Linked DNA regions of Homo sapiens. The protein of the gene in region 4 purifies or fractionates together with the protein of the main gene of each other region. This does not show direct contact. Each region holds a gene or a part of one and is shown on either strand. Other genes may lie near its edges. The genes, in order: SEPTIN6, PYGL, TRIM36, HK2 and SEPTIN10.

Region 1 (5,908 bases), on a different chromosome or scaffold from region 4:
TTGCTTGAGCCCAGGAGTTTAAGACCAGCCTGGGCAACATACTGAGACCCTGTTTCTATTAAAAATAGAAAAAATTGGCTGGGCGCAGTTGCTCACACCTGTAATCCCAGCACTTTGGGAGGTCGAGGTGGGTGGATCACGAGTTCAGGAGTTTGAGGCCAGCCTGGCTAATATGGTGAAACCCTGTCTCTGCTAAAAATACAAAAATTAGCCAGGTGTGGTGGTACGCACCTGTAGTCCCAGCTACTTGGGAGACTGAGGCAGAAGAATTGCTTGAACCCAGGAGGCGGAGGTTGCAGTGAGCCGAGATTGTCCCACTGGACTCCAGCCTGGGCAACAGAGCGAGACTCCATCTCAAAAAAAAAAAATAATTACAAATACAAAAAATTAGCCAGGCATGGTTGCACGTGCCTGTAGTCCCAGCTACCCAGGAGGCTGAGGTAGGAGGAATGCTTCAGCCGAGAGATCGAGGCCACTGCATTCCAGCCTGCGTGACAGAGTGAGACTCTGTCTCAATAAAAAAAACAAAAATGTCACCCAGCACTTTTAGGAGGAGAAGTGAGGGGATCTCAAAGACAAATGAATAAAAGTGCAACAAACAAAAACCAGGTTAAGGCAATTGATAGGCAGCCCTAGTGACTAGTAAGAGCTGCTTTAGGCCAGGCGTGGTGGCTCATGCCTGTAATCCCAACACTTTGGGAGGCCAAGGTGGGCGGATGACAAGGTCAGGAGATCGAGACCATCCTGGCTAACTCAGTGAAACCCCGTCTCTACTAAAAATACAAAAAATTAGCCAGGAGTGGTAGCACGTGCCTGTAGTCCCAGCTACTTGGGAGGCCGAGGCAGGAGAATCACTTGAACCTGGGAGGCGGAGGTTGCAGTGAGCCGAGATTGTGCCACTGCACTCCAGCTTGGGCGACAGAGCGAGACTCTGTCTCAAAAAAAAAAAAAAAAGAAAAGAAAAAAGAAAAGATCTGGTTTATACAGCAAGTCTGTCACTCACCCACCTAAGTGACAGTGCCAAATACCCCCAGGACCCGGAGAACTAACCTTCTTCATCGTATGCTGCAAGTGCTACAGAATCCTAAACTCTCTCCTGAATCCATGAAAGAAAGTGAAATTCGGCTTGCTCTGCTCTTACTATTCAGGGTAGTTTATTGCATTCTAGTTTGTGACTGTCTGTGCCTCTTGTTCTCTGATCCACTTACCACAATGGCATGCCAGAATATTCTTTTTTTTTTTTTCCGAGACAGAGTCTCACTCTTGCCCAGGCTGGAGTGCAGTGGTGCGATCTCGGCTCACTGAAAGCTCCGCCTCCCGGGTTCAAGTGATTCTCCTGTCTCAGCCTCCCAAGTAGCTGGGATTATAGGCAAGCGTCACCACGCCCAGCTCATTTTTGTATTTTTAGTAGAGACGAGGTTTCACCATGTTGGCCATGCTGGTCTAGAACTCCTGACCTTATGCCACCCACCTTGGCCTCCCAAAGTGCTGGGATTGAGCCGACTACTGGGATTACAGCACTCCCAAAGTGCTGGTATTACAGGCGTGAGCCACTGTGCCTGGCCCAGAATATTCTTCTTGTTCTTCTTTGGGTTTCTGGTTCTATTCAGGACTAATTAAGCCTCCCTTTAGTTAAGGCTGAGGTGTCTGTACTCATTCCATGTCATAAAGTCCTTTTTATTTCCTTCCATGTCCAAAGCCAAGTATTTCCTTGACTGGCTTTCCCATACTGAAGTTTTCTCTGAGATCCATGGTGATCCTTCCTGATTGCAGGGGTTAAGAAAAGACAGGGGTTCCTTACACATAAGAGGTCCCATTATATAATGTTCTAAATACTGGGTTGACCATAGTCAAATTCCTTACTTCTCAGACCTTCTGTTTCCTCATAAAATGGAGATAATAACGGAACCTACCTCATAGGAATGTGGTAACAATTAAATAAATTAATATACATAAAGGACTTATAAAAGTCAGTGCTTAGCCTGTAATTACTCGGTAATTTCTTTTTTTATTTTTTGAGACGGAGTCTTCCTCTGTTGCCCAGGCTGGAGTCCAGTGGCACAATCTTGGCTCACTGCAACCTCCGCCTCCTGGGTTCAGGTGATTCTTCTGCCTCAGCCTGCTGAGTAGCTGGGACTACAGGCACATGCCACAATGCCTGGCTAATTTTTGTATTTTTAGTAGAGACGGGGTTTCACCATGTTGGCCAGGCTGGTGTCGAACACCTGACCTCAAGTAATCTGCCCACCTTGGCCTCCCAGAGTGCTAGGATTACAGGCCTGAGCCCGGCCAGCACTCAGTAAATGTTATATTATTATAATTGATGTTATTATTGACCATGTGTGGTAACTATGGGGACTCTTTTTAACAAAATGTCTGACTAAACACAATGCAGTATTCCTTTACCATATTCAGGAGCAGAGACTTGGAGATAAAATGGCAGGAAGAGAGAACGATCCAGAGCATGGTGCCTTTGGTGCCATCATAGCAATCCCTGACAGAAATGCCCCCTGAGGTTCCAGGGTCCTGCAGGGTCACAGCCCTACTGGTCCCCACCCACCTGGGCTTGGCCAGGCTGGGGACTGCTCACAGGGGATTCTCTCCAATCTCCCTGTGCTTCCCTGCCAGCTGCACGAGAAGTTTGACCGTCTGAAGAAACTGCACCAGGACGAGAAGAAGAAACTGGAGGATAAGAAGAAATCCCTGGATGATGAAGTGAATGCTTTCAAGCAAAGAAAGACGGCGGCTGAGCTGCTCCAGTCCCAGGGCTCCCAGGCTGGAGGCTCACAGACTCTGAAGAGAGACAAAGAGAAGAAAAAGTAAGTAGCAGGCTGCTCTGGGGTGGTGCCTTCTCTTTCCTCCTGCTCATCCTCCCAGGGCAGGACGTGGCACCTGAAGGGGCTGAGGACTGGTGACCAGAGGTGAGCTGTGGGCTGTCAGACTGGTTGAGGTACCTATAACTGGTCCCAGCATCCCTGTGGCACCTTTGGATTCCCTGAGCTTGGGGAGTTGAGAGTAGCAGAGGGGTGTGGTCCCAGAGGCCCAGCCCATCTGTCCAGCTTGCTCAGGAAAGCCCTGCAAACTCAAGGTCCATAGGAAAGGAAGGGAAAAGAGGAAAAGCAAAGGAGAGTGAGAGAGCAGAAGGGAAGAAAAAAATTAGAGGTGCAGCAATATAAGAGAGGAACAAGGCCGGGCACGGTGGCTCACACCTATAATCCCAGCACTTTGGGAAGCCAAGGCAGGAGGAACACTTGAGGTCAGGAGTCCAAGACCAGCCTGGCCTATATGGCGAAACCCCGTCTCTGCTTAAAAAAAAAAGAAAAAAAAAATAGGCTGGGCACGGTGGCTCACACCTGTAATCCCAGCACTTTGGGAGGCCGAGGCAGGCAGATCACAAGGTCAGGAGATCGAGACCATCCTGGTTAACACAGTGAAACCCCATCTCTACTAAAAATACAAAAAAATTAGCTGGGTGTGGTGGTGGGTGCCTGTAGTCCCAGCTACTCGGGAGGCTGAGGCAGGAGAATGGGGTGAACCTGGGAGGCGGAGCTTGCAGTGAGCAGAGATCGTGCCACTGCACTCCAGCCTGGGCGACAGAGCGAGACTCCGTCTCAAAAAAAAAAAAAAAAAAAGAGTTCAAGACCAGCCTGAACAACATGGTGAAACCCTGTCTCTACTAAAAATACAAAAATTAGCCAGGCGCGGTGGCGCGCGCTTATAATCCCAGCTACTCAGGAGGCTGAGGCAGGAGAATTGCTTGAACCCAGGAGGCAGAGGTTGCAGTGAGTTGAGATCGCACCACTGCCCTCCAGCTTGGGCGACAGAGCGAGACTCCATCTAAAAAAAAAAAAAAAATACAGAAATTAGCTGCCTGTAGTCCCAACTACTCAGGAGGCTGAGGCAGGAGAATCACTTGAACCCGGGAGGTGTAGGTTACAGTAAGCTGAGATCACACCACTGCACTCCAGCCTGGGCAACGGAGTGAGACTCCATCTGAAAAAAAAAAAAATAGAAAAGAAAGAGAGGAACAAAAAGAACTGCAGCTACGGGCCGGGCGTGGTGTAATCCCAGCACTTTGGGAGGCCAAGGCGGGTGGATCACTTGAGTTCAGGAGTTCGAGACCAGCCTGGCCTACATGATGAAACCTTGTCTCCACTAACAATACAAAAAATTAGCCAGGCGTGGTGGCGTGCGCCTGTAATCCCAGCTACTTGGGAGGCTGAGCAGGAGAATTGCCTGAACTGAGGAGGCAGAGGTTGCAGTGAGCTAAGATAGCACCATTGCACTCCAGCCTGGGCGACAGATTGAGACTCTGTCTCAAAAAAAAAAAAAAAAAAAAAAAAAAGAAGTGCAGATACAGGATAGTGGAAGAAAGAGAGAGCCTTTAGCAGAAACTCGGTGCACCCTCTCCCCACCCTTGCCCTATATCTGAGGTTGCTCACCTCTCCATGGCCGTAGTCCCACCCTCACCCTGCCTCAGTTATTACTCTCTGCAGCCAACAGAATTTAACTGCTGCCAGTGAAGGCTGCAGCTCAGCCCTGATTTCCCACCCCTTTGTGATCCCTCCCTGCTGGCTTAGTTCTGCCTAGCCTGGGGTGCTGAGAACTTATGGGGGAGCCCTCAGATGCCAGTGTATGCTGCATGTGCCCCATCCTCAATCTGTGGAATGACTGTAAGACCTTCTGATCTCCCCTGGTATTAGAACAGTGGCTCCTGGATACCATGTGGGTCAATAATCCTCACCCAACCCCAGTCTCTGCTTGCTGAAGTTACCCATTCCTCATCCCAGAACTGGAGAAAAATATTTCAACGGGATCTAGAAAAACTCCTGTGGTGCCCTTGTGCCCTGCAGTTGTTTGTGCAGTGTGGCTTGAGGAGTTCCCAGGTGGACTGTTTAGCTGTGTCTTTACTGAAGGGTACTGAGGATCCAAAAGGTGTCCATGGTCATTGCCTTCTGTTTTCAGCCATTTGTTCCTGGACTTAACTATGGGATATTTTTGCCAGAAGGAAGAAACACCTTCCTTTCCTCTGGCTTATCACTTAGGAATAACATGGTAACTTTTGCATAACAGTAAAATATGTTATATTTGAAGGCATTCAGCTTTGCAATCCAATTACTCTTTATGCAAATGTGTAATTTAAACATCTTGGCCGGGTACGGTGGCTCACGCCTGTAATCCCAGCACTTTGGGAAACTGACGCAGGCAGATCACCTGAGGTCAGGAGTTTGAGACCAGCCTGGGCAACATGGCGAAACCCCGTCTCTACTAAAAATACAAAAATTAGCTGGGCATGGTGGCCCACACCTGTAGTCCCAGCTACTCAGGAGGCTAAGGCAGGAGAATCACTTGAGCCTGGGAGGTGGAGGTTGCAGAACCAAGATCATGCCACTGCACTTCAGCCTGGGTGACAGAGTGAGACTTTGTCTAAAAAAAAAAAAAGAACATCTTCACCAATTAGTCCAGAAATTTTTCTTACTGAATCTTAATACTATATGTCAAATTCACTGATGAATGAAATTTTTTGGTATTACCTGATGGATAAAGTTCAACTAGCCAGAAAAAAGTCTCTTTGGACACACCCTGTACTGTATTAACTTATCTGTCATGGTGTATTAGTTGCACCAGCAGGAATGAATTCCTATTTTTAAGATCAGAAAAATCTAAATTTGTCATCCAGCTGTAACCTGCTGCCTTCATAGTCCTGTGGTATTTGTTAACTCAGTACCTGGGGCAGTTTCATAGCCTGCTTGTGGGAGTTAGGAATTGGTTTGTTCAGGCTACAATGAAACTATAAATATTCCCTATTCAGATGTTCAGTAAAAGTTCTTCTTACATCAAGCTTTCCCCTTGTTGCCTCATACTGACTGACTTCTCCCACCCCAGGCAGGAGACCCCAACAGGGAGA
Region 2 (5,908 bases), on a different chromosome or scaffold from region 4:
AGCTAACCTTATCAACCATCATCACTTCTTTCATTATGACTTGAAATTGAATCAGAAGGGTATATAATTTTACTTACCACCTCCATTGTTTACTGGGATGGGATTTTAACCGTCAAACATAAAATATATCATACCATAAAAAAGAAATTATTTCCATAAAAAGCAAAATGCATCTGTCAAGAAAGCAGCAGGCCTTTTCAGAGTATAGTCATGCCCCCACTCAACACGTAACACTGTTCTTACAAAGGCAGATTTGGAGAAGGCTGATGAAAATTCCACATGCTGGGAAGATTTTTAAAGGTTGATGGGCTTTTAATTTTTGAGTCTCTTCAAGGAAGATTTGCAGGCGTGGAGTGTTCATCGTGCACCCCCTGAAATTGTGTTGCTAAAATTCTATATTTACCATCTCCTCTCATGGGGAGTGCAGTAACAGTCCTCTATGAAAATAGCTGGCCTAGGAGGAAGTGGGGAGAAAGACAATTGCAACAACCTCACAGAAGTTTCACAATCACACCAAAGCCCTGGGTGGAAAGGCACTCACAGTATGTATCTCGGAGCTGGATCCAAGTGGCTTCTGCAACCCTTCTCTTGCCTCTTAGCACCCACACCAAGTTCGTAATAGCCAGTCATGCGTGATTCACATTACCCAGCAAGCTTCTAATTATCACTGTGGAATTCTTGGTGTGCCACAGAAACATTTATCAGTTATTATAACATCAGAAAGCCAAGTTCATGGGCTCTCCTGATGACTGTTCACTGGTTCTTTGTCGACTCTGTATCCCACAGGTGCAGAGAAGAGCATTTCTTAGAATTCAGTCAACAGAGTCCCCTGGGCTGACCTCTCCATCCCTGCTGGCTGGGACAGATTCCATTGAGTCATTCCTCTAAAGAAATGCCTAGTCCAGCTGCCACCTGCACCCAGGTTGGCTCTTTTACTCCACAGATCCACGCTTGCTTTCTTCAGCCCCGTGCAGCCTCTGGGATGAAACAGCTCTGACAGCTCACTTGGATGTAGATGAAAGTTCTCCCACCTTGGCCCCCCACCCCTACCCCTTCATATGATTGGCATGTTAGTGCATTTGGGGATCACTGGCTACATGGAAACCTAAATTTACAGATCAATTTGTCAATTCATTGGAAGAAAGCAAGGTAGAGAGAAGGTTTATCACCATCTTGCAGCTTCTGTAGATTTAGTGGAGGCAGCAAGGGATAGTTCTCTCCTCCTCAGATCTACTCAGGTCAACTTGTTATGAAACGCTTGTTTCTCAATCTACCTTAAAAACAAGCCTTATAAAATTGATAGAATTATTCACCAATTCTTTATTGAATCAGCGGGAGATTCACAATAAAGAACAGCAAGCAAATAAACTCTCCTACGAGTTGTTAGCCCCATGAAGCTAAAACCAATCATTTACTTGGCAGGAAAAAAATTCAACCAACATTTGATGGCATTAAGAATCTCATGTAAGAGTGTACCCTCAAAAGAGCAAATGTGGCTTATCGTGGTGGCTCACGCCTGTAATCCCAGCACTTTAGGAGGCCGAGGCAGGCAGATCACTTGAGGTCAGGAGTTCAAGATCAGCCTGGTCAACATGGTGAAACCCCGTCTCTACTAAAAATACAAAAATTAGTTGTGTGTGGTGGCGGGCACCTGTAATCCCAGGTACTTGGGAGGCTGAGGCAGGAGAATCACTTGAATCTGGGAGGCATATGTTGCAGTGAGCCAAGATTGTGCCACTGGACTCCAGCCTGGGCGACAGAGCAAAACTGTGTCTCAAAGAAAATGAAAATAAAAATAAAAAGAGTAAATGCAACCTCTGACTTCCACAGGAGTCAGGGACTGAGCCCACAGGAGGAAGTTCAGTGCCCATCCTCTCTTATCTGAGCATTTCAGGCTTCTTGGGGGCAGGACAGTATATCATCCTGCTGCATTTCTCAGCAAAAAAATATGTCATCAGTTCTCCCATGGTCATGAGTTTTCAGAGGAAAACTGTTTCTGCCTCATCGTCTTCCTATTTCATACAATACCTTCAGATGGGTTTTACAACAGCCCTGCATGCTGAAATGAGGCAAACAGGCCTATGGTTCTTTCCTGTTACAGGAAGCAGTGTTCACATTGCTCAGTATTTTAAAACCCAAAATTGGCCCTTGCCTAAGTGCAGCATAAAGTATTTTGTAAGTCAAGATGTTTTGATCCTTTGTTGATGTCATCATTTTATTTATTATAGCATTTCTAGTTATGAACCCAAGTTAATGGACTTTTTCTTTTTTTTTTTTTTTTTTTTTTTTTTTTGAGACAGAGTCTCACTCTGTCTCCCAGGCTGGAGTGCAGTGGCACAATCTCTGCTCTCTGCAACCTCTGCCTCCCAGGTTCAAGTGATTCTTTTGCCTCAGCCTCCTGAGTAGCTGGGATTACAGGTGCCCGCCACCATGCCCGGCTAATTTTCATATTTTTAGTAGAGACGGGGTTTCACCATGTTGGCCAGGCTGGTCTCAAACTCCTGACCTCATGATCAGCCCACCTCGGCCTCCCAAAGTGCTGGGATTACAGGCGTTGCCACCACGCCTGGCCAAGTTAATGGACTCTTTAACAAGCTTCTTGACAACTGGCAAACTTCAACTGTTTCTTTATTAAAATTTTATTTTATTTTATTTTACTTTATTTTTTGAGATGGAGTCTCACTCTGTCACCCAGGGTGGAGTACAGTGGCATGATCACAGCTCACTGTAGCCCTGACCTCCCGGGCTCAAGCAATCCTCCCACCTCAGCTTCCTGAGTAGCTGGGACTACAGGTGCACACCACCACACTCGGCTAATTTTTAAATTTTTTTTAGAGATAGGTTCTCACTATGTTGCCCAGGCTGCTCTCAAACTCCTGGGATCAAGTGACCTTCCTGCCTCAAAAAAATTTTATCTTTGTTCTCTTATGACTGGGATAGCGGAAGTTTAGTTTTTAATTCTGAATTACAGATTACAGTTATTGACTTTGCATTGCCTTGTAGCTCTTGGCTGCTCTTTGTGGGGTTCAGGGACCAGTAGAATCAGGAGCCCCTGGGAGCTTATTAGGAATGCAGAATTTCAGGCCCCTCCCCAGACCTACTGAGAATCTGCATTTTAAGAAGATGTGACTTTCTGACGAGCTCAGATCTCTCTCCAGCCTTCCCTAGGGTTCATCTTGCATCTGATACCTCCTCCTTCCTCCAGTGGCTCTCTAACTCCTAGCTCTTCCAACTAAAGATGTTGTTGCTATGAGTCCCATTTCCATTCATCATTACACTGGTAGTTAATATTAGTGGGAAGCTTACTGGCTTTCTTGATAAACAACACTATCAAAATTTGAATAAGTGAACTTGTATTCATTTCTCTGGCTGTTGACAATAATGGTTAGTCTAAATTCTCAAAAGATAGTGGCTGTGTTTATTTTTGTCTCTTCACACTGTTCCTGAGACAGGCATTACACTCATGTTTAGGTGATCATGAGATGTCCAACATTGTGTTGTAATTCTTAAGCAGTATCTTCTAAAACTAAAGCTGAGTTTTCTAAGAGGTGAATATGAGGTATCAAATAGGTAAAATAACCATATTGGAGATTATCTCATTGACAAAGCTGCTTTGTTTACCCCCTTCTGGCCAGAACACAATTCCATTTTTTAATGTATAGTCATGCACCACATAATGACATTTCAGTCAACAATACAACACATATGCAATAGTGGTCCCATAAGATGGTAATGGAGCTGCCCCCTGTGGGTGTACCATTTCTTATGTTTTATACTGAATTTTTACTGTACTATTTCTATGTTTAGATATACAAACACCATCGTGTTACCATTACCTATAGTATTCAGCACAGTAACGTGCTGTACAGGTTTGTAGTCTAGGAGCAGGAGGCCATACCATATAGCTCAGGTGTGTAGTAGGCAGCACCATCTGGGTTTGTGTAAGTGCACTCTGTGATGTTTGCACAATGACAACGTTGCTTAAGAACACATTTTTCAGAATGTATCCCTGTCGTTAAGCAATCCACAACTGTATGTGTCATATTTTAAAGGTTTCAATAATTTAAAAATACATCCCCCTCCAATGTGTTTGGTGGTGGTGGTGTTCTTATTTTGATGTGTTTGTTTGTTTGTTGCAAATGAAAATGTATTTGATGTCCAGGATATCCTAAATAGAAACCATAGTTTAAAATCGTATATAAGAAATATTTTGTTATAAATTGACATAAATACCTAGGAAAATATTGAAATTGTCAATAAAATAAGTTCATTACCTCTTGGAATATGTTATTTTCAAAATAAACTATAATCTATAGTTCATTATCAAATCAAAATTACATAAGGATTGAGATAAGCAAAGACTACATAATGCAATAATGTTCTGTACCTATACCAATAAGCTTGATTAAAAGAGTGTTCTGTAAGTAGCATTTTCTAACTGATTCTGTATATTCTAGCCACAAGAATCTTGACTGAACCCTTTGTGTAGGACTCAACAGGCCCAGGTATCCAACGATAAACATCCCTGTAAGGCGTCTGTCTTTAGCTGAAGCTGGACAATTGGATTCACAGACGTTAAGACAGAGGCTCTGGAACACAGAGACCTAAGGGCAGATCTTATCTCTATCGTTTACTGTTTGACCTTGAGATCTTATCTCTACCGTTTACTATTTGACCTTGAGCAGTTACAATTCCTCATCTTTAAAAGAGGATTAAATGCAGTAATACATATAAAATATTTAGAGCTGTATTAGCGAGTATTATTGTTGATGTAGGCTGTAAAAAAGTTACAAAACAGTACTCAGTATTCATAAGTTGTTTCAGTTAAAGATGTTTTAAATTTAATATAATATAATTGAAGTGCTAGGTTCATATTTCCTGACAAATAAATTCTAAGCAATACTGTATCCTTTTGCAGGTAGAAGAAGCAGATGATTGGCTCAGATATGGAAACCCTTGGGAGAAGTCCCGCCCAGAATTCATGCTGCCTGTGCACTTCTATGGAAAAGTAGAACACACCAACACCGGGACCAAGTGGATTGACACTCAAGTATTCAGAGTGCTCGTATAGCCAGCGTTTTGTATAGTATTTAGTACAGTAGATAATACATTGACTATGTAGCATATAGTGGTGATATTGAGTATAGGGCATGTCGTGTTTTGAATAATAGAATATATTTTTGTAAATAAATCTGTTACTTCTCTTAGCGCAGCCCAGTCATTTTGGAGACAAAGGAGCTGAGGCCAAGAGAGGAGTGACTTTTATAAGGGTCATTTTGCAACCAGCTTTGTCAGAAAATTGTCAGTTCTTTTTTTTTTTTTTTTTTTTTTGCCAGAAAATTGTCAGTTCTATAGTAACCAGCATGCTTACCTCTTTGGTTTTATATTAAGGTGTTGATAGCAAAATTGAATAATTTGAAATGTCATTCCTGGCTGGGTGCAGTGGCTCACAACTGTAATCCCAGCACTTTGGGAAGCCGAAGCGGGCAGATCACCTGAGGTCAGGAGTTCAAGACCAGCCTGGCCAACATGGTGAATCCCTATCTGTACTAAAAATACGAAAATTAGCCAGGAGTGGTGGCCCATGCCTATAGTCCCAGCTACATGGGAGGCTGAGGCAGGAGAATCGCTTGAACCTAGGAGGTGGAGGTTGCAGTGAGCTGAGATCATGTCGCTGCACTCCAGCCTGGGTAACAGAGTGAGACTCTGTCTCAAAAAAAATAAAATAAAATAAAATAAAAATAAAAGTTTGCAGTTTACACAATCAATCCTGGAAGCATTTTATTTACACTGTGGGTCCCACTGCTGAGCTAACTTGCATTTACAAAACACCTCTAGATACTGTCATAATGTATCCAGAAATTCAATTAGAGAGAGTGTGTGTTTCTGGGCCAACAGAGGCAAGGTT
Region 3 (6,549 bases), on a different chromosome or scaffold from region 4:
CCGGTTTCAAGTGATTCTCCTGCCTCAGCCTCCTGAGTAGCTGGGATTACAGGCGTGTGCCACCACGCCAGGCTAATTTTTGTATTTTTAGTAAAGGGGGGGTTTCACCATGTTGGCCAGGCTGGTCTCGAATTCCCGACCTCAGGTGATCCACCTGCCTCGGCCTCCCAAAGCGCTGGGATTACAGGTGTGGGCCACTGCACACATTATATTTTAGAAATCCTTTCTCATCAGTACATTGATTTTAACTGCTGCATAGTATTCCATGGTATGAATGTATATTATGCATGATGTTTAGTTATAAATAAGGTCTCAATAAGCTCTTTGTACATGTTTTTGTGCACACATGCAAGTATTACAGTAGGAACATTCTTAGATGTGGAATTGCTTAGTCAAAAGGTAAAAATATTTAAAATTTTTGATAGGATTTGTAAAATGTCCCTTGAGATAAGCTGTACCAACATACGATATCACAAAAAGGTTTGAGCAAAATAAGAGAGGCTTTGTAAATCTTGTATTTTTGATAGAGAAATAGGCAATGATACCATTACTTGGTGAATTATTAAACTTTGAACATATTTGAGGCACAAAAATATTCAAAAATTTTTACAAACACAAAATTAAAACAAGAAGACACTTATACTCTGAAAGAATTAGGCTTAGAAAGTCCTCAAATCTAGACTAATATAAGGTCTTAAACATCTCATGGGACCAAAACAAAAATACCACCAAATGATCTGTTTCAGAAGGATGAATAGATAGTTGCTCACACAACTAAAACCTGTGCTGGGGTGATAATGGTAAGGTTGTGCCCACTGCATAAGTATTTTTATTTTTTTGGAGACACAGTTTTGCCAAGTGTATTAACACTTGCCAAGTATATTAACATCATGTTTGAATTTTGTGGATCAGGTAGAAAATGATAGCTCAGTGAAGTCTGATTTGCAAAATGGAAGGCCATAGCAATGTATTTTCACCAAAATATTGTCTATACAGATTTTATCTTTAATTCCTGTTAATGGAGCCTTCTAATCACTTTTACTGTGTCAACTAATAAGTTTTGGATCAAAGCAGGTGTGCGGATGTGAAATTACAGCCCAAGGGGAATTATTTAGCTCAAAGGCCAGTATGAGAAAGACTTATAATGCTTTCTAATGGTTGAGCCTTTAAATATATGTATATATATATAGGCACCTAATTCACGCAGGCATTTGTTAGTCTCCTCCTGATTAGCACTTTTCAGAACCTGTGGGAAGGAAGCCTTCCCAAGTCTAGCACCTGCGGCCACGCAACGGGCATTAATCCGGATCAGAACAGCCCAGGCATTATTACCTGGCAAAGCTTTCGTCCTCTGTTCACCTCATCTGTAAATGGAGGGTATTCCATTAGAGAAAATTGCTATAGTCCCTCAGTGTTTTTAATTCTACACTCCTTATTTAGATGCCGGATTGGAGACGAGGCTACCGCTGCAGACAGGGCTGTGGGAAGACGACGGAACTTGCCACAGCGACAGACTTCTCCCAAACAGGAAATAAAAGTGGGAAGCATTTTAAAACCTAAACGAGATGTCTCGCTACAGCTCTGTAGTCCCTACTTACCCAGCAATTTAGGGCATCTGTTCTTAAAGCCTAATACATAGGAATGAATTGTTTAGCTAGCCAGAAAGGCAGTGCGTGATCTAATAATCCTAAATTAATTTGTTCTCCGTGTGTCCTGAAAACAACACCAGAAACACACTTGGGCCGTGGCAGGTGAAATGTGCGCCGCCAGTCCTTGAGCTGGCGCGCGCCTTAACGTTCAGCAGCACTCCCCGCGGGGGTGCGGGGGTGCCGGAGCCGCTCAGGACCCTCTGTCCTGGCCCTCAGGAAGGAAAGCGTAGGCCCGGGTGGCGGGGGGTCTCTCCCTTGCCGCGGCCTTTTAACTTCAGTCCCTGGCCAGCATCCGGGAGAGGAATCTCCACCCTGCAGGCGGTCCCCGCGCTACTGGGCAAGAACGTGCGGTGACATCGCGACTTGGGGGTATAGAAGCAGAAAGCGGGATATGACTGCTCGGTGCCCAGTCAGGGACTATTAAGTTCACCCAGCAAGTGAAGCCAGAAGAGAACTGGGACAAGCCGGGCGGGGCCAGGGAACCCCAGGCCGCGCCTGGCTAGGGACCGCGGAGAGGGCGGGCGGGGTCTCACTCTGGTCGCCTCGCGCAGCTCTGCCGTGCTCGCCGCGGCCATTCAGGGAAGGTGGCTTAGGCTCGCCCTCGCCCGCACCGTCCTGTGCCGAGCCTGGAAGCGGGGCTTCGAACCGCGAGTGAAGAAAGCGCAGTGAGAGCAAACTGAAGGGCGGAATGGCAGCGCAGGGCCAGGGGCCAGGGGCCAGGGCTGCAGCCGGCTGCTCTGCTGCAGCGGAGCCTCCCCGCCCCGGCGCCGCCCTCGGCACCCGCCCACCGCTCCCCGCTGCCCTCACTTCCGTTCCTCAGAGCCCCCCAGCCTGGCATAGGGCGACGGGCGACTACCCGGGTGGGAGGGAGGGGCTGATGCGTAGGGGGAAGGTGGCGGCGGAGGGCGCCGAGTCCCAACCGCGTGCCACACCCACGCCCAGCCGAGTCCCGCTCAGCCTACCACTCAGACACCCGGCCTACCAGCCCCAGGCGGCCCCGCCTCTTTTGTGCGACTGGCGCTGTTGCCTGGGCAACGACCAGGCCACGCCCTGTCCACGCCCCGCGGTGCCCCGCCCAGGTCTCTGCGCGGCGCCGTTCCCAGCCGCAGTCCGCAGGAGCCGCTGCTGCAGCCGGCAGCTGGGCGGGATTCCCGGGGTAGTCGCTGGGAGCAAAGCTCGCTTCTCCCGCGCCTGTGCTTTTGCCTGCCCCGGCTTACTTCTCCCCGCGTCGGTCCGCTGGCCACGTACAGCTGACCAGCTCATCTTCCAGCTTCGGACCGAGGCTCCACGGCCGCCGCAGGGACCCGCCCACCAGACCCTGCGCTCGGTAGCCGGTGTGAGTGGAACGTGCCGCTGATGACACCTGGCAGAAGGCAGCCATGGAGGGCGATGGCTCAGATTCGCCGGTGAGTGCGGAGGGGACCGCCGCCCCCACCTCGAGGGCGGTGTGCCGACCGCGGCTCTTTCTCTTTCCTCCGCCGGGAGCCCGGAGGGAGCCTCCTCCCGGGAGAGCAAAGGCAGGCGTGTGGGGATCCCGCTTCCTCTTCGCCTTCTCCCGCCCGGGGCTAGGTTCCGCAATCCGGGGCGTCCCCTTTCTATCCCCGAGAGCCGGACGTGGGGTCCCCTGGGCCGGAGAAGAGCGCAAATCCGATGGTTGCCCACCTGAGCACCTCGGGGGAATCATGGAGGGTCTCTCTAATGGAGCTCAGGCTGTAGAATTAATTAGCGTTTGGGAGTCGGGTGCGGGCAGAAAGCTGGGGCGCGTCCCTCGCGCTTGCGGGGCCGCCCTTTGTCTAGGCGTCTTGACCCCCGCGGGCCCGGCCGGCTGCCGCCGCCTGGGCCAGAGGCTCCTCCCCGGCTTCGCCTGCCCGCGGGGGGCGGGCCGGGGCCCCGGCAGCTGTCAGCCTACAAGTGTTTTTGTTTAAAGGTGTCGAATGTGCAATTCTTCCGAAGTTTCTCGAGGAACTGCTTAATTGAGGGAGCCGCCACATCACACTTAATCAGTTTGTTTCTCCCTCAATGACAGATGAACTAAATTTTCTCTTGGGTAAGAAATACTTTATGTCCATTGTGATTAAAAAGTCAGATTCAAGACACTGCTTTATGTACAAGAAAATGGAAATGATTTTAGATCCTCCCCCAGTGACAAGTAAACCTGAACTGACCATATTTATACATAAAATGGAATGTAAGAACCTATTTTGGATATCCCGGACAAGATTTTCTTTTGAATTAGGTGCCAAACCCTTTGTGAAATGAGATAGGATGTGAATATTCTGTATTCTTTGATGTGAATTGTGAGGTTTAGTTATCTTATTTCCAAATCTGTGAACAGTTGGGAGGTGATATGGCTCTTCATCACATATTTGAGTGATGCAGCAAGAGACTGCATCGAAACACCCACTGACAATGATAAAACCAGTTGGCTCTAATGCAGTTAAATTGTCAGAGATTATTGAAGCACTTGGTGTCACTTTAGGGAGAATAGGTTAGCATACATTTTAAAATTTCATTACATTTAGTTAAGTCAATTTTAATTTTCTGTGTATTTCTAGTAGCTGAAATGATTGTACAAGGTTATAAGTACTTTGAAGTTGGGCTGTCTTTAAAATTGCAGGGATGCTGACTATAGGATTCATAGATATGAAGTCTGGGATACATGGAAAAAACTACGTAGAGAAATGATGGGGAAACTGGTATGAGGTCATCAAACTTTTTTAGTTGTGATGAGTCTAAAATGCTTCTCACTTAAAATAATGAAAGGCTGTAGTATTGAGAGCAGTTGTAGTGGTGCTTATACACCTTTTTAAAGGGTCCCCTACATTCTTTTAATATTCTGTTATGGTTAGGCTTTGTGTCCACACCCAAATCTCATCTTGAATTGTAATCCCCAGGTGTTGAGGGAGAGACCTGGTGGGAGGTGATTGGATCGTGGGAGTGGTTTCCCCCATGCTGTTTTCGTGATAGTGAATTCTCCCAATATCTGATGGTTTTATAAGGCAGTATTCTCTGTTCTTACTCCCTCTCGCCTGCTGCCATGTAAAACGTGCTTGCTTCCCTTCCTGCCATATTTGTAAGTTTCCTGAGGCCTCTCCAGCCATGCAGAACTGTGAGTCAATTAAATCTCTTTTCTTTATAAATTAGCCACTCTTGGGTATTTCTTTATAACACTGTGAAAAGGGACTAACACAGAGAATTGGTACCAAGGTAGTGGGCACTGCTGTAAAGATACCCAACAATGTGGAAGTGACTTTGGAACTGAATAACAGGCAGAGATTGGAACAGTTTGGAGGGCTCAGAAGAAGACAGGAAGATGTGGGAAAGTTTGGAACTTCCTAGAGACTTGTTGAATGGTTTTGACCAAAATTCTGCTAGTGGTATGGACAAAGAAGTGCAGGCCAAGGTGGTCTCAGATGGAGATGAGGAACTTGTCGGAAACTGGAGTGAAGGTGACTCTTGCTATGCTTTAGCAAAGAGACTGGCAGTGTTTTGCCCCTGTCCTAGAGATTTGTGAAGCTTTGAACTTGAGAGAGATGAAGCGGAGCGTAAAAGTTTGGAAAATTTGCAGCCTTACCATGGAGTAGAAAGGAAAAACCTATTTTCTGGGGAGGGATTCAAGCTAGCTGCAGAAATTTGCTTAAGTAAAAAAGACTCAAATGTTAATTGCCAAGACTATGGGTAAAATGTCTCCAGGACATGTCAGAGATCTTGGCAGCAGTCCCTCCGTTTGGCAGGGCCAAACAGGTGCATTAATGAAGAGAGCCCCATCACAGGCCTGGAGGCCTAGGAGAGAAAAATGTTTTAGTGGAGTGGGCCCAGGGCCCTGCTGCTGTGTGCAGCCTCGGTATCACAGGATCCTTAGGGTGTCGCTTCACCAGCCAGAAACCTCTGTGGCAAGTGTTGCCTTTGCCCAAGTTTTGCTCAGGCCCACTGGGCTTGTTCTGCCCACTTGACCCAGCAGGCTGTGCTTGGTTTTCACTACTGGCCCAGATCCCACGGCTGCCAACGGCAAGCCAGGTGCAGAGCAGCAAGGGGTGCATGAGTGAGCGAGCGCGGGGTACAGTGTGCACAGCCAGGCATGGTGGCTGTGGCGGGGCAGGCAGGTCCAGGTGCCAGTATGGGCGCCGGCTCCTTGCTGTGGCTGGAACAGGTGTACCACAAGTGGCTCCCACTACAAGCACTGTGGAACATGGTGGCACCCAGAAACTTGGAGATGCCGGCAACTGCAGAGCCACAAAGAGGATGTCACAGCCCTGGCTTGGGGAGCTCCTAAGTCCAGGCTCCCTGAAGGGCTGCAGCTCTTCTCTCCTCTCTTGTCTCCTCATCGTCACCCACAACATGGCGAGCAGCAGGGTGTATTTGACACAGTTTGTGTTACAGCTTGTTTGGTCCTGCCATTTGGCAGGTCCAGAGTTCCTGTACTGTGTCCAGGAAGAATGAGCTACATGGACAACTGGAGGGTGAACAAGGTGCTTTATTGAGCAAAAGAGTAGCTCTCAGGAGACCTGTCATGGGTAGCTGCTTTCTGCAGGCAGTTCCTCCCGACAACTGCAGCTCTCAGCAGAGAAGAGACCCGGAGTGGGTACCTCCTCTCTGCAGGCAGGTCATTTTGTCGAGTGTGCAGTCCTCAGTGGAGAGGAGACCCAAGTGGGTAGCTCTTACCTGCAGGCAGGTCGTCCTATCATCTGCCAGAGTCTGGCTGAGTTTGCGGTTTTTATGGGCTTCAGAGGGGAGGAAGTGTGTGCTGATTGGCCCATGGGTGGCCATGGGTGGGCCTGGAAAATTCACTGTAAGTTTTCACTCCAGTCAGTGGAACTGGCAGCCTGGACCCTAGGCTTCAGGCTATCCCTGGCTTGAAGGTGGGGTTTCAGCAGGGACCTGTCCCTTTCCTCCCAGGAGC
Region 4 (5,908 bases):
GGTCTAGTATTCTCCCACCTGTTCTCCTAGGCTTTTGGGTGGGAGATGCTTCTTACATTTACTAACTCAGAACTTTCCAGGTGCATTCGACAAGAAACCCTTTCCAAGAAAACCTCCTTTATTAACATCTCACGAGAACCGGCGTCCTGGGAGATGCCATTGTGGAAGCTCTGATCACTTGTTGCCATCCAGTCCTGGGATACACTTAACAGGGCCCCAGTTGGGTGCCTACCTCTGCTTGCCGGGGTTGAGTGAAAGCTCATCCACAGCCACATCAAATTCTGTGCGGAAGTCATCTAGGCATCCATTGTCCCCGAAGGCCCCCCATTCCATGTTCACACACATCCGCCCCTCTTCTCCTTCCACCAGTTCCACGTTGCGCATCTCCTCCATGTAGCAGGCATTGCTGCCCGTGCCTGCCAATCACAGGATACCAGGGCCTCACTCAGCACCAACCCCTCCACACCCAAGGCTGTGCATCCCCATGTGGAAAGGACAGTCTGGGTCCTTACCAACAATGAGGCCAACTTCACAGTGAGGGTCTTCAAAGCCACAGGTCATCATAGTTCCGACTGTGTCGTTCACCACAGCAACCACATCCAGGTCAAACTCCTGAGAGGGAAGAAGCAGATGCCCAGTTCACAGGTGAACCCCAATATTCTCCTTTCAGACAATTGCATGGGAGATTTACAGGTATATAAAATATATATCATACACCATGGCTGACCCTCTCATTCCATTCAGGTCTGTGCTTAAATGTCACCTCTTTGGTGAGACCCTCCCAAGTTGTGCTATTTAACAGTGCCCCTTTCCAGCACACTTGCTCCATCTGCTCTCCTCACCCCACTTCACTCCTTTTCTTTCTTTTTTTTTTTTAAACTCTATATGGTCTAAAAAGGGAAGGCATGAATAATACACCCCTTGTTTAGCATATAATCAAGAAATAACCATAAAAATGTGCAACCAGCAGCCCTCATGGCTGTTTTGCTTATGGAGTGGCCATTCTTTTATTCCTTTACTGTGTGTGTGTGTGTGTGTGTGTGTGTGTGTGTGTGTGTGTTTCACAGCTCTTAACAGCACCTGCCACTAGGTCATGGACTTTATAGAACAAAGCTTTGTTGTGGTCACTCCTGAACCGCCAGTGCTGAGAGCATTGCTTGACACACAGTGCACACTAAACTGCTGAACGACGCTTGAGTTAATCTTCCTCCCAACCCATGCAGCCACACTTACTGTTGCCTTCACTTTCTGAACACACAGACCAGGCCAATCATTGAGGAGCTGACACATCAGACCTCGTGCCATGTGTCTCCTACCTCTCGCCGGTGGATCGCTTCCTTCAGCAGGGTCACCACGTCCTCGCCCTCGCAGCCAGATGCCTTGAAGCCTTTTGTCCACTTGAGGAGGATGCTCTAAAAATCACACACAAGCATGGAAAGGACATCAGGGAAGAGCTCCCAGGTCAGTTCTGGGGGTCCAGCTGTGCTTCTAGCTCTCAACCTCACAGGTCAGACGGATCCCCCAGAGTCACCAATCATCTCACCCGCAAATTAAACTGTTCCTAAGGTACTTACTTGGATTTATTGAGCACCTACTGTGTAGCAGGTACTGGGCTAAGCATAGATCATGCATTACATTATTTAACCCTCACAGCACCCTTGTGGAACATCTATCATGTTTATGGCCACTTTATAAGAAACTGAGGCTCTGGAGTGACTTGCTCAAGGCCTACAGCTTGGAAGAGAGAAGCAGGATGCACTCCGAGGCCCTCCGACCCCAGTGAATGGGCTCATAAGCACCACGCAGCTGACCCTGCTGTGCAACTTCTTCCTATGTGCTTGGTTCGCTCACTGGGCAAAGCAGTTTGCTCTGTCCCTATCCTTTACATCAGAAGGGTCAGTGTATGTCTCCTAATTTTCAAACTCCAGCATCTGGCGAACAAGTGCTTTGCCCACAGCTGGGTGACAGCTAGGCTTCACCACCACCCCATGTCTTTCAGTGAGGAAAACAACTCCAGGCTCCTCCTCAGCATCCTCAGTGGCCCCTTGCCTTCAATGTGGTCCTCTGGGAGCAGATGCTTGACGGCTTTGAACCTGGGAGAAATGCTTTGGGTTTTATTCCCTGATGCCCTCTCTGCTGCCACAGCCCACCAGGAAACAAGCCTCAGGGCTTCAGACTCCTTACCCAAGAGCTCGGCTTCCATAAATGAGCTGTGTGCTCATAACCCACCCACTTGCATGATTTCTCCAGGCCTTGCTCAGGGATTCATGCCCATCAGCTTGGCATTTCATTCACATCAACCTGGAGGTGTCACACTGTGTTCAGACCCCAGGAGATTCAGAAAAACAAAGCACATACCCTCAGAGAGCTGGCTGACCAGTGTGTGCTGATCTCCACCCAGCTCTCTACAAGTTAGCTTCACATGTTTGACGCAAGTTTGTGTTTACGGGATGTTCAAATAACATAATTTCAGGTGATCCTTACTGATGAGGCAAGTGGAGGCCCAACAGCTGGGAAACACAGCTGGGGGCCACAGAGCCCTGGGGTCTCTAACCCCAGGGGCCTCTGCACTGGTGGGATTTCCCCATCACAGGAGGGTCTTGCCAGAGCCCACAGGAAGAAATGACTTCTGCTTTATTTGCTCTTAATTTTTACGGCTCTAGACCTAACACGTGCTCCTCAGAGAAACCTGGAACACAGAATAAAACCTAATCCAATGGCCTGGAATCTCACAATTCAGACAGAAACAGTTAACACACATTCTGGTTTCCCTGGCAAATATATAAATAAATATATAACCTGTTGGCATGAAAAGTTAAGATAGTATCTACTTGAAAATATTTTGGTAGGAAGTCTAGAAGAAGGATATACACTGGAGGGTTATGCTTTTATCATCCCATTAATTGTATTTTATGTTTTTTTATAAAGAGATTACCATTTCTAAAGAAAAGTAGTTTTAAAACTTTTTAGTCATATCACCAGTAATTTTTCATGTGATTAAAATTTATTACAAATAACTAGTGGCTGATACTAGCTAATAAGTGGGTCATAATTTATTTAACTACTATCTCACTATTCAGCAAGTTTGTTTCTAATATCTTTGTTATAATAAGTAATGGTCCATTAAATAGTACATAAGAATTTGTCCACATGAGGCATAAAGCAACGCTAGTCTGGTTAACACTACATGAATGTTAATAGGTGTTGAGAAATGCCAGACTAAGCTGAGTTTTTATTGCAGAACTTCCTAAAACCTTAATTATACTAGTGCACATGGGGAATTCTCTCAGATAAGGAGGAGAAGGAGGCATCTACAAAACTCAGTGAAGCCAAGGTGAGGGCCACTGTTGCAGGGACCCTGTGGGAAATGCTGCTCTTTCCTTGTCACTAGGGTAGGCTCTTCTGCGCTGGCCCAGCTCTTTCTGTCACTTGCTCCCACCTACATGACCCTCTCCACAATGGGCAGCCTGCTCACCTTTCTTTCCCATCAACTCATTCTTCTGACTTGTTCCAAGTCCTCCTGACATCCCCCAGGTATGCACTCGGATTAACATCTGTCTCACTACCTGTCCTGGGGGCTTCAGTATCCATCCCACGAGGGCCACATTCCAAACAGCAGCTCTTCCTTTTCTGAGCTTGCTTCATCAGCCCAGCTTGTTTGTAAGCATCTAAAGGTAGGAGCCATGCCTTTTATACCTAGCAGTGGCATGTGCAACATACCACACACCGGCAGCGTGCACGTGCACTCCTACATGACTGAGACAGAGACACAACTGCTTAAAAACAGTCTCCAGATACCTAATGCTTAGGGCTACCAGTCATCAGCAGATCCAGCACTGCCTACTCAGTTCTCCTCCACTTCTCGGGGCACTCATGTCCAGAACATCTGGGAGTGCCAGATCCTCATGCACCTACTTCATTCACCCAAGGTAACCTGAAGAGGAGTGAGAAGCAAGATGAGACCAGAGAAGAGCCAGGGCATCCAAACAACAGGATATGGCATGAAAATGCCCTGAGCCCATAACAAGGGCCTCAGGAGCCCCACAGCATAACTGACAGCACAGGCTCAGGCATCAGGAACCCAGAATCCAAATCTTGGCTTGGCCAGTCCCAAGCTATTATGACCTGGAGCAAGACACCCAGCACCTCTGTGGGGCTTATCTTCCTTTCTGTAGAATGGGTATTCAAACATATCTCTTATATGGTTGCTGTGAGGGTTAAACGAGATAATGCAGGTAAGAAACCTAACATAGTACCTGGCACACAGTAAGTGCTTAAAAATGCTATATATATATATATAAGTTCAATAGAGATGGGGTCTTCCTATGTTGCCTAGGCTAGTCTTGAAATCCTGGCCTCAAGTAATCCTCCTGCCTCAGCCTCCCAAAGTGCTGAGATTACAGGTATGAGTCACCACACCCGGCAGTTGTTAACATTGAGTAGCATCATCATCGTTGTCCCAAAGGCTGTCACAGCTGAGCTAACCTACTTAACCTCCACCAGCCTCAACTTACTCATTCCCATCAAGGAGCCCCTCCCCACTACTGGTAACTCACGCCCTCCTTTCCTTAGTCTTAGCTCAACTTTCTCCCCTGCTCCATACCTGGCTGGTTTTGTTTAGAGTCAATAAAGCCCACAGGAGAGCCCTCCAGGAAGGTGCTGTTACCTCGTCCAGGCTGTTCTGCTGGCAGGGGAAGGAGAAGGTAAAACCCAGAGGCAGGGACACGCCCTTCATGCCCATGTACTCGAGGAAGTCCGCGATGCACTGGACAATGTGGTCAAAGAGCTGCAGGGAGAAGTTAGGACACTGAGGGAGGGGCCCTGGGCAGGGCAGGCTGCCCCCAGTAGGGCCTGCGCACAACATCAATGTTTCTTTCCACCCAGAAGAAATGCAGGCTCAGGCACAAACCTGAGTCAAGACCAGGCTGCAGCCCTGGGTCCAGCTAGCCCTCCCCAGGGTCACAGATGAGCAGAGAAAGCACTGTCCTCGAAGGCAAGAGGTGACGTCCACCAGGGGCCCCCTCCTGAAGGCGCCGCCCTGCTCACCTCGTCCCCGGTGCCGTGCATGACCTCCTGCGGGATGGCGTAGATCTTGTTGTGCATCTCCACTCCACCCCACTTCCCATTCCGAACACGGACCAGCAGGACCCGGAAATTTGTTCCTCCAAGGTCCAAGGCCAAGAAGTCCCCTTTCTCTGGAAAATAAGCCCAGGGAAGTGATAAGTTGGGGCAGAACATGGGGAATGTGGAGACAGTACACTTAAAACGATCCAAATACACCATTCCTGTTCCATCAAATGCCACTTTATATTACATTCTAGAATACAGAAGGAACAGAAGAGTCCAGCTCCCTGAAGGAAGCTGAAGGGAAATCTTTTAAACTGAGAAAACCCTCCCTTGTTGGACAATTACAGTGTGCCACATGCTTCACACACAGTCCTCGTTCAACCCTTAGGCAGCCCTGTGAGGGAGACACTGCATTCCTCTCTTAAGGATGATTGGGATCTGGCTGATAGTTAAATCACTTGCCCGGGGCCATACGACCAGGACAGGGTAGAGCAGGGACCAAATCCCAGTCTGTCTCTGGAACCTGTAACAACTGTGCTACACTGGCCTGCTCATCGACTGTCTTCTCTGAATTGGAATAAGACCACCATTTCTGAGGTTACAAGACTTACAGCAGGGGTCAGAAATCTTTTTCTGTAAAGGCCCAGACAGCAAACGTTTTAGGCCCTGTGGGTCATGCAGTCTTTGCTGCCACCACTCAACTTTGCCAAGACAGTGCAAAACAACCATAAGCAACGTGCAGACGCATGGGCATGGCTGTGTAATAAAACCTTATGTACAAAAACAGGTGGTGGGCCAGATTCAGCCCATGGGCCATAGTTTGCCAACCCTGACTCAGACC
Region 5 (5,908 bases), about 35 Mb from region 4:
GCTTATTTAAAAAGAACTAAAGAAAGGTCTGGGAAAAAAAAAAAACCTATTTCAGAGCAGTGGCTCCTCTGGGGGAAGAAATGGGACTGAACACACGGGAATGGCTAAAGTGCATTCCAACTGATCTGTACCATTTGGTATTTTCACAGAATCGTATTTATATACTGCTTCATTAATTGATAGAATACAAACAATCCAACAAATAAGTTAATGAGAAAAAACAAGTTATAAAATAGGCAAAAGATGAAAGCATTCCCCTTGAGAACTGAAACAAGATATGCCTGAGCTCACCATTCTTATTTCACACAGTACTTGAAAGTCCTGGCCAGAGAAGTCAGGCAAGAGACAGAAATAAAAGGCATCCAAATAGGAAAAGAAAAAGTCAAATTATCTCTCTGCAGACAATATAATTTCATACCTAGACAACTCTAAAGACTCCGCCAAATGGCTCCTGAACTGATATACAACTTCAGTGAAGTTTCAAGATGCAAAACCAATGTACAAAAATCAGCAGCATTTCTGTATATCAATAATGGTCAAGCTGAGAGCCGTATCAAGAACACAATGCCATGTACAACAGACACACACACACACACACACACACACACACACACACACTCACTCTCACGCAAAAACCTAGGAATATATCTAACCAAGGAGGTGAAAGGTATCTGCAAAGAGAACTACAAAACACTGCTGAAAGAAATCACAGATGACACCGACAAACTGAAAAAATGCTCATGGAATCAATATAGTTGGAAGAATCAATATAGTTAAAACGGCCATACTACCCAAAGCAATCTACAGACTCAACGCTATTGCTGTTTTTTTGTTTTGTTTTTGAGAAGGTATCACTCTGTCCACCCAGGCTGGAAGGGCAGTGGCATGATCACGGCTCACTGCAGCTTCGACTTCCCAGGCTCAAGTGATAGTCCCACTTCAGCCTCCCGAGTAGCTGGCAGTATAGGTGCCCACCAACATGCCTGGTTAATTTTTTAAAATTTTTTGTAGAGACGAGGTCCCACCATGTTGCCCAGGCTAGTCTCAAGACTCCTGAGCAAGCGATCCTCTCTCCTTGACCTCCCAGAGTGCTAGGATTACAGGCGTAAGGCACCACAACTGGCCTCAATGCTATTTCTATCAAACTACCAATGTCATTTTTCACAGAATTAGAAAAAACTATTCTAAAATTCATAAAGAAACAAAAAAGAGACTGAATAGCCAAAGCAATACTAAGCAAAAGAACAAAGCCTGAGGAATCACATTACCTGACTTCAAACTATACTATAAGGCTACAGTAACCAAGACAGCATGGTTGTGGTATAAAAACAGACAAATAGACCAATGGAATAGAACAGAGAACCTAGAAATAAAGCCGCACACCTACAGGCATCTGATCTTCAACAAAGCTGACAAAAATAAGCAATGGGGAAAGGACTCTCTATTCAATAAATGGTGCTAGGATAACTGGCTAGCCATATGCAGAAGAATGAAACTGGACCCCTATGTTTTACCATAAACAAAAATTAACTCAAGATGGATTAAAGACTGAAATGTAAGACCTCAAATAAAAGAATCCTGGAAGAAAACCTAGAAAGCACCATGCTGCACATTGGCCTTGGAAAAGAATTTACGATTAAGTCCTGAAAAGCAAATGCAACAAAAACAAAAATTGCCAATTAAACTAAAGAGCTTCTACATAGCAAAACAAACCATCATCAGAGTAAACAGACAACCTACAGAATGGGAGAAAATTTTTACAAACTATGCATCCAACAATAGTCTAGCAGCCAGAATCTGTAAGAAACTAACAACTAAACAAGGAAAAAACAACCCCATTAAAAAGTGGCCAAAAGACATGGACATACAAGCAGCCAACAAACATGACAAAACGCTCAACATAACTCATCATTAGAGAAATGCAAATCAAAACCACAATGAGATACCATCTCACAACAGTCAGAATGGCTATTATTAAAAAGTCAAAACACAACAGATACTGGCGGGGCTGTAGAGAAAAGGAAATGCTTGTACCCTGCTGGTGGGAATGTAAATTAATGCAGCCACTGTGGAAAGCAGTTTGGAGATTTCTCAAAGAACTTAAACCAGAACTACCATTCGACCCAGCTATTCCAACTTGGAATATATCCAAAAGAAAATACCTCATTCTACCAAAAAGACACATGTACTCATATGTTTCATCATAGCTCTATTCACAATAGCAAAGACATGGAATCAACCTAGCTGCCCATCAACGTGGACTGGATAAAACAAGTGTGGTACATACCTACCATGGACTACTACACAGCCATAAAAAAGAACAAAATCAAGTCTTTTGTACCAACATGGATGAAGCTGGAGGCCGTTATCCTAAGCAAATTAACTCAGGAACAAAAAACCAAATACCATATGTTCTCACTTATAAGTAAGTGGGATCTAAACATTGGGTACACATGGATATAAAGATGGCAACAACAGACACTGGGACTACTAGAGTGGGAAGGAAGATACCCGGTAAAGGCTGAAAAACTAACTATTGGTACTATGCTCACTACCTGGGTAATTGGATCACTTGTACCCCAAACCTCAGCATCACACAATATACCCATGTAATAAACCTGCAAATGTACCCCAAATCTAAACGAAAAATTGAAATTATTTTTTAAAAGGAAAAAAATTACTTACAAAAATGGAAATAAGACTGGGCGCAGTTGCTCACGCCTGTAATCCTAGCACTTCGGGAGGCCGAGGTGGGTAGATCACCTGAGGTCAGGAGGTCGAGACCAGCCTGGCCAACAAGGTGAAACCCGTCTCTACTAAAAACACAAAAAAAATTAGGTGTGGTGGCAGGTGCCTGTAATCCTAGCTACTCGGGAGGCTGAGGCAGGATAACCGCTTGAACTGGGGAGGTGGAGGTTGCAGTGAGTCGAAATCATGCCACTGCACTCCAGACTGGGTGACAGAGCGAGACTCTGTCTCAAAAAAAAAAAAAAAAAAAAAAATTGAAACACATTTCAAAAAGGAAAACGAACAAAAAGTTATTGCTTTACCAATCCTTTTCCCCCTTTCATAGTTTAAATTTGATAGAGCATAGAATCTCTACTCAATCTTTATACGACCTTAGGAGAAATATTAAAACAAATAGAGACACAAGGTAAAATATAAATTAAAATTTCACTATCAAAACTTTCCTGCAATGATTAATAATGTAACTGGCTAATTTGATTATAATTTTACAAAAAATTCAAGCATCATGTATTTGGCCATTGTATATATTGTTCTTATATGTCTTGTATTTTTTTTCTTCAAGGAGATAAGCCCTGCCTGAAAATTAGTATAATTAATATACACTGAATTTGCATGTCAGGAAATAATTAAAGCTACTTTTGCTGAAATGCACATTTTAATAAGGTGATTCAAATTATTCTAAAGAAATTAGACAAATGGCTAGAAAAATGTCAATGTGCTAATAAGAACAAAATATTGTTTAATTATTTTATTTTTAAAACAATGTGTGGAAGGAAAGGTATGGATTACCATAGGAGAAAATCAAATCATAGTTCATGGGGCTATAAGGCGAATGTCTTGAAATAAGAAAAACTTGTTTTATTACAAGAAGAAAACACATACCTCTCTTCTTTATTTATTTGGTCACCAAATCCCACTGTATTCACAATGGTCAATTTCAATTGAACATTACTTTCCTGGAGTTCATATGTCTGAGCTTTAAGTTTAACATTTGGGCAAAAATGTGAGGATTCATAGTCTTCAAAATTAGTATTAAACAATGTGTCAATCAGTGTTGATTTTCCAATTCCAGTTTCCCCTGAAACACACAAAGGTACATCTTTATGGTTGCATGAATGGCTGAAAAGAAATACAACTGTAAATGCCTAGAGTGGTTTCAAAGATCCCAAATATTTCAAAGGCCAGGGTGCGCATGAAAGAAATACACACTACGGCTGGTCCCCCAAGTCATTAGCAGAGCATAGAGTAAGTGTGCTAAGCTACTCAGGACTCTGACAACAACACTGAGATGTTTATATAACAAGCCAAAAGCTTAAAGCTAAGAAAAACAAAACTAACAGAATCTAAACAACTAAAGAGAATCCCTGGGATCATGATTTCAAATTGATAACATGAGCATTGTTCTGCCCATGACAAGAATGAAGTGAGCACAAGGAATATGAAGGAACAACTTAGAGGAAGAGTAGGTGGCACGTACCCACACAGAGAATATTAAAGCAGAAACCTTGCTGAATGGATCTGTTCACCAGCTGATCAGGCAAACTCTCAAAACCAACATGGCCAGACATAGTCAACGAACGAATGTTTTCTCTTTTCTGAAGGAAAATAAAAACAAAAACAACAGCAATAAAAAAAACAACTTTGACTTAAATAGGATGTAGGCACACTTGAAGGACAAATATATCAAATAAATGAAAATTTTTATAATCATTATACCTCACCTAAGATACAAGCGATTAAGTAAATTTTCAGGAAAAGAAACCTGTGTCCAGATCCTCAAAACATACATTTCTTATCCCCTTCATACAACGAGAGTCTAGCACTATGTATAACATTAAAACATTCGATTTCCAAAATAGGAAAATATCCAACTATGGCATATTCACTTACAAAATAAAAAGTTAAAGTCCATTTGTTTATGATAAAAACTTAGAAAATTCTTACATTAAAATGTCAAGTGAAAAAAAAGCACAAAACAAAAGTACAGATACAGGTTCAGCTCCTGGTAATGGCAGAGTAACTTAGGTCAAACTTACCTGCCTACTGGTAACAATTACAAGCAACCCTTTTAAGTCACTAGAGTGCAACCAAAGGCAGATAGACACTGGACAGAATAAGACTTGAGGGAAGGAAACTTATCAGGTGAGATGAGTTTATCTAGCTTTTTCCCTGAAGGCACTCCCTAGTCATTATGGCAAAAGGAAGATAGAGCTCAGGAGGGAAGTTATAGTCTTAATGGGTTAAGATGTCCATTGGAGATTGGGGCAGGCAGATTGGTTGGGAATTCAGGGAGAAAATTCCAGAAAGAAGGGAGTCCAAAATCTACAAACACACTCCACTCAAATCCATGGCTGATGGCCAAACTGCACACATACAGAGGGAATACAAAGATCCCAGAAGGGGGAAAATGGGAATTGGGAGGAGCTATGCAGAGTTTTCAAGTGCCATCTTGGAGAGATGGACAGAGCTTAAATTTTAAGCCTGTAAGTTAAAGAGTCTCCTGTAAACACCCTAGGCCTTCTACTGAAACCCTAGATGGGCCACATTTTAGGAGTAAGGTCCATAACTCAGCAATCAGAAAGCACAGCTGAAGCAGACCTGCCTTAACAAAGCCTGTAACAAGGCTCAACATGATCAATGTGATCAGTCAGCAATTTAATTGCCTGTTAGAACAAAGTTCAAGACTCTGCAGAAGAAGAAAACAGAATCTAGCATCTCTACAGTATCTACTATACAATAAAAAAATTATGACAGGAAAAAAACAGAAAAATGTGATTCACAGTCAAGAAAGAAAGTCAACAGAAAGAGAGCCACAATGAACCAGATGTTTAATTAGCAGGTAAGAACTTTAAATAATGATAACAAATATGCTAAAGAATCTACAGGAAAAAGATGGATATAATGGGTGGCATGACGGGGAATTACAGAAAGATATGAAAGAGCTCGCAACGACAAAAAGCAGCAGACAGAATTTCTAGAATGTAAAAATGCAACATCTGAAGTAAAAAATATATTTAGTACTAACAGCAGATCAAATAATGGAAGACAGATTTGTTCAATAGTTATTATCCAAGCTAAAAATCTCACAGAAAGAAAAAAGATAAAACTATGACAGTCTTAAAAACTTGTGTGAGAGTATCAAATGATCTAACATACCAGT

Evidence for each region.
Region 1: the proteins of HK2 (region 4) and SEPTIN6 fractionate together in Homo sapiens (co-fractionation; one large-scale study listed by BioGRID). This does not show direct contact.
Region 2: the proteins of HK2 (region 4) and PYGL fractionate together in Homo sapiens (co-fractionation; one large-scale study listed by BioGRID). This does not show direct contact.
Region 3: the proteins of HK2 (region 4) and TRIM36 purify together in Homo sapiens (affinity purification with western blotting; one study listed by BioGRID). This does not show direct contact.
Region 5: the proteins of HK2 (region 4) and SEPTIN10 fractionate together in Homo sapiens (co-fractionation; one large-scale study listed by BioGRID). This does not show direct contact.

The regions. Positions count from the first base shown.
Region 1 is NC_000023.11:119,626,229-119,632,136, reverse strand, and holds part of SEPTIN6 (septin-6), read left to right. Parts: intron 1-2,628; coding exon 2,629-2,819; intron 2,820-5,908. UniProt on the Homo sapiens protein: Filament-forming cytoskeletal GTPase. Required for normal organization of the actin cytoskeleton. Involved in cytokinesis. May play a role in HCV RNA replication.
Region 2 is NC_000014.9:50,923,111-50,929,018, reverse strand, and holds part of PYGL (glycogen phosphorylase, liver form), read left to right. Parts: intron 1-4,918; coding exon 4,919-5,050; intron 5,051-5,908. UniProt on the Homo sapiens protein: Allosteric enzyme that catalyzes the rate-limiting step in glycogen catabolism, the phosphorolytic cleavage of glycogen to produce glucose-1-phosphate, and plays a central role in maintaining cellular and organismal glucose homeostasis.
Region 3 is NC_000005.10:115,166,114-115,172,662, reverse strand, and holds the start of TRIM36 (E3 ubiquitin-protein ligase TRIM36), read left to right. Parts: upstream 1-2,754; 5' UTR 2,755-3,028; coding exon 3,029-3,055; intron 3,056-3,576; exon of another isoform or gene 3,577-3,696; intron 3,697-6,549. UniProt on the Homo sapiens protein: E3 ubiquitin-protein ligase which mediates ubiquitination and subsequent proteasomal degradation of target proteins. Involved in chromosome segregation and cell cycle regulation. May play a role in the acrosome reaction and fertilization.
Region 4 is NC_000002.12:74,880,998-74,886,905, reverse strand, and holds part of HK2 (hexokinase-2), read right to left. Parts: intron 5,196-5,908; coding exon 5,047-5,195; intron 4,787-5,046; coding exon 4,667-4,786; coding exon of another isoform or gene 4,604-4,666; intron 1,413-4,603; coding exon 1,317-1,412; intron 613-1,316; coding exon 513-612; intron 417-512; coding exon 233-416; intron 1-232. UniProt on the Homo sapiens protein: Catalyzes the phosphorylation of hexose, such as D-glucose and D-fructose, to hexose 6-phosphate (D-glucose 6-phosphate and D-fructose 6-phosphate, respectively).
Region 5 is NC_000002.12:109,581,496-109,587,403, forward strand, and holds part of SEPTIN10 (septin-10), read right to left. Parts: intron 4,344-5,908; coding exon 4,226-4,343; intron 3,827-4,225; coding exon 3,631-3,826; intron 1-3,630. UniProt on the Homo sapiens protein: Filament-forming cytoskeletal GTPase. May play a role in cytokinesis.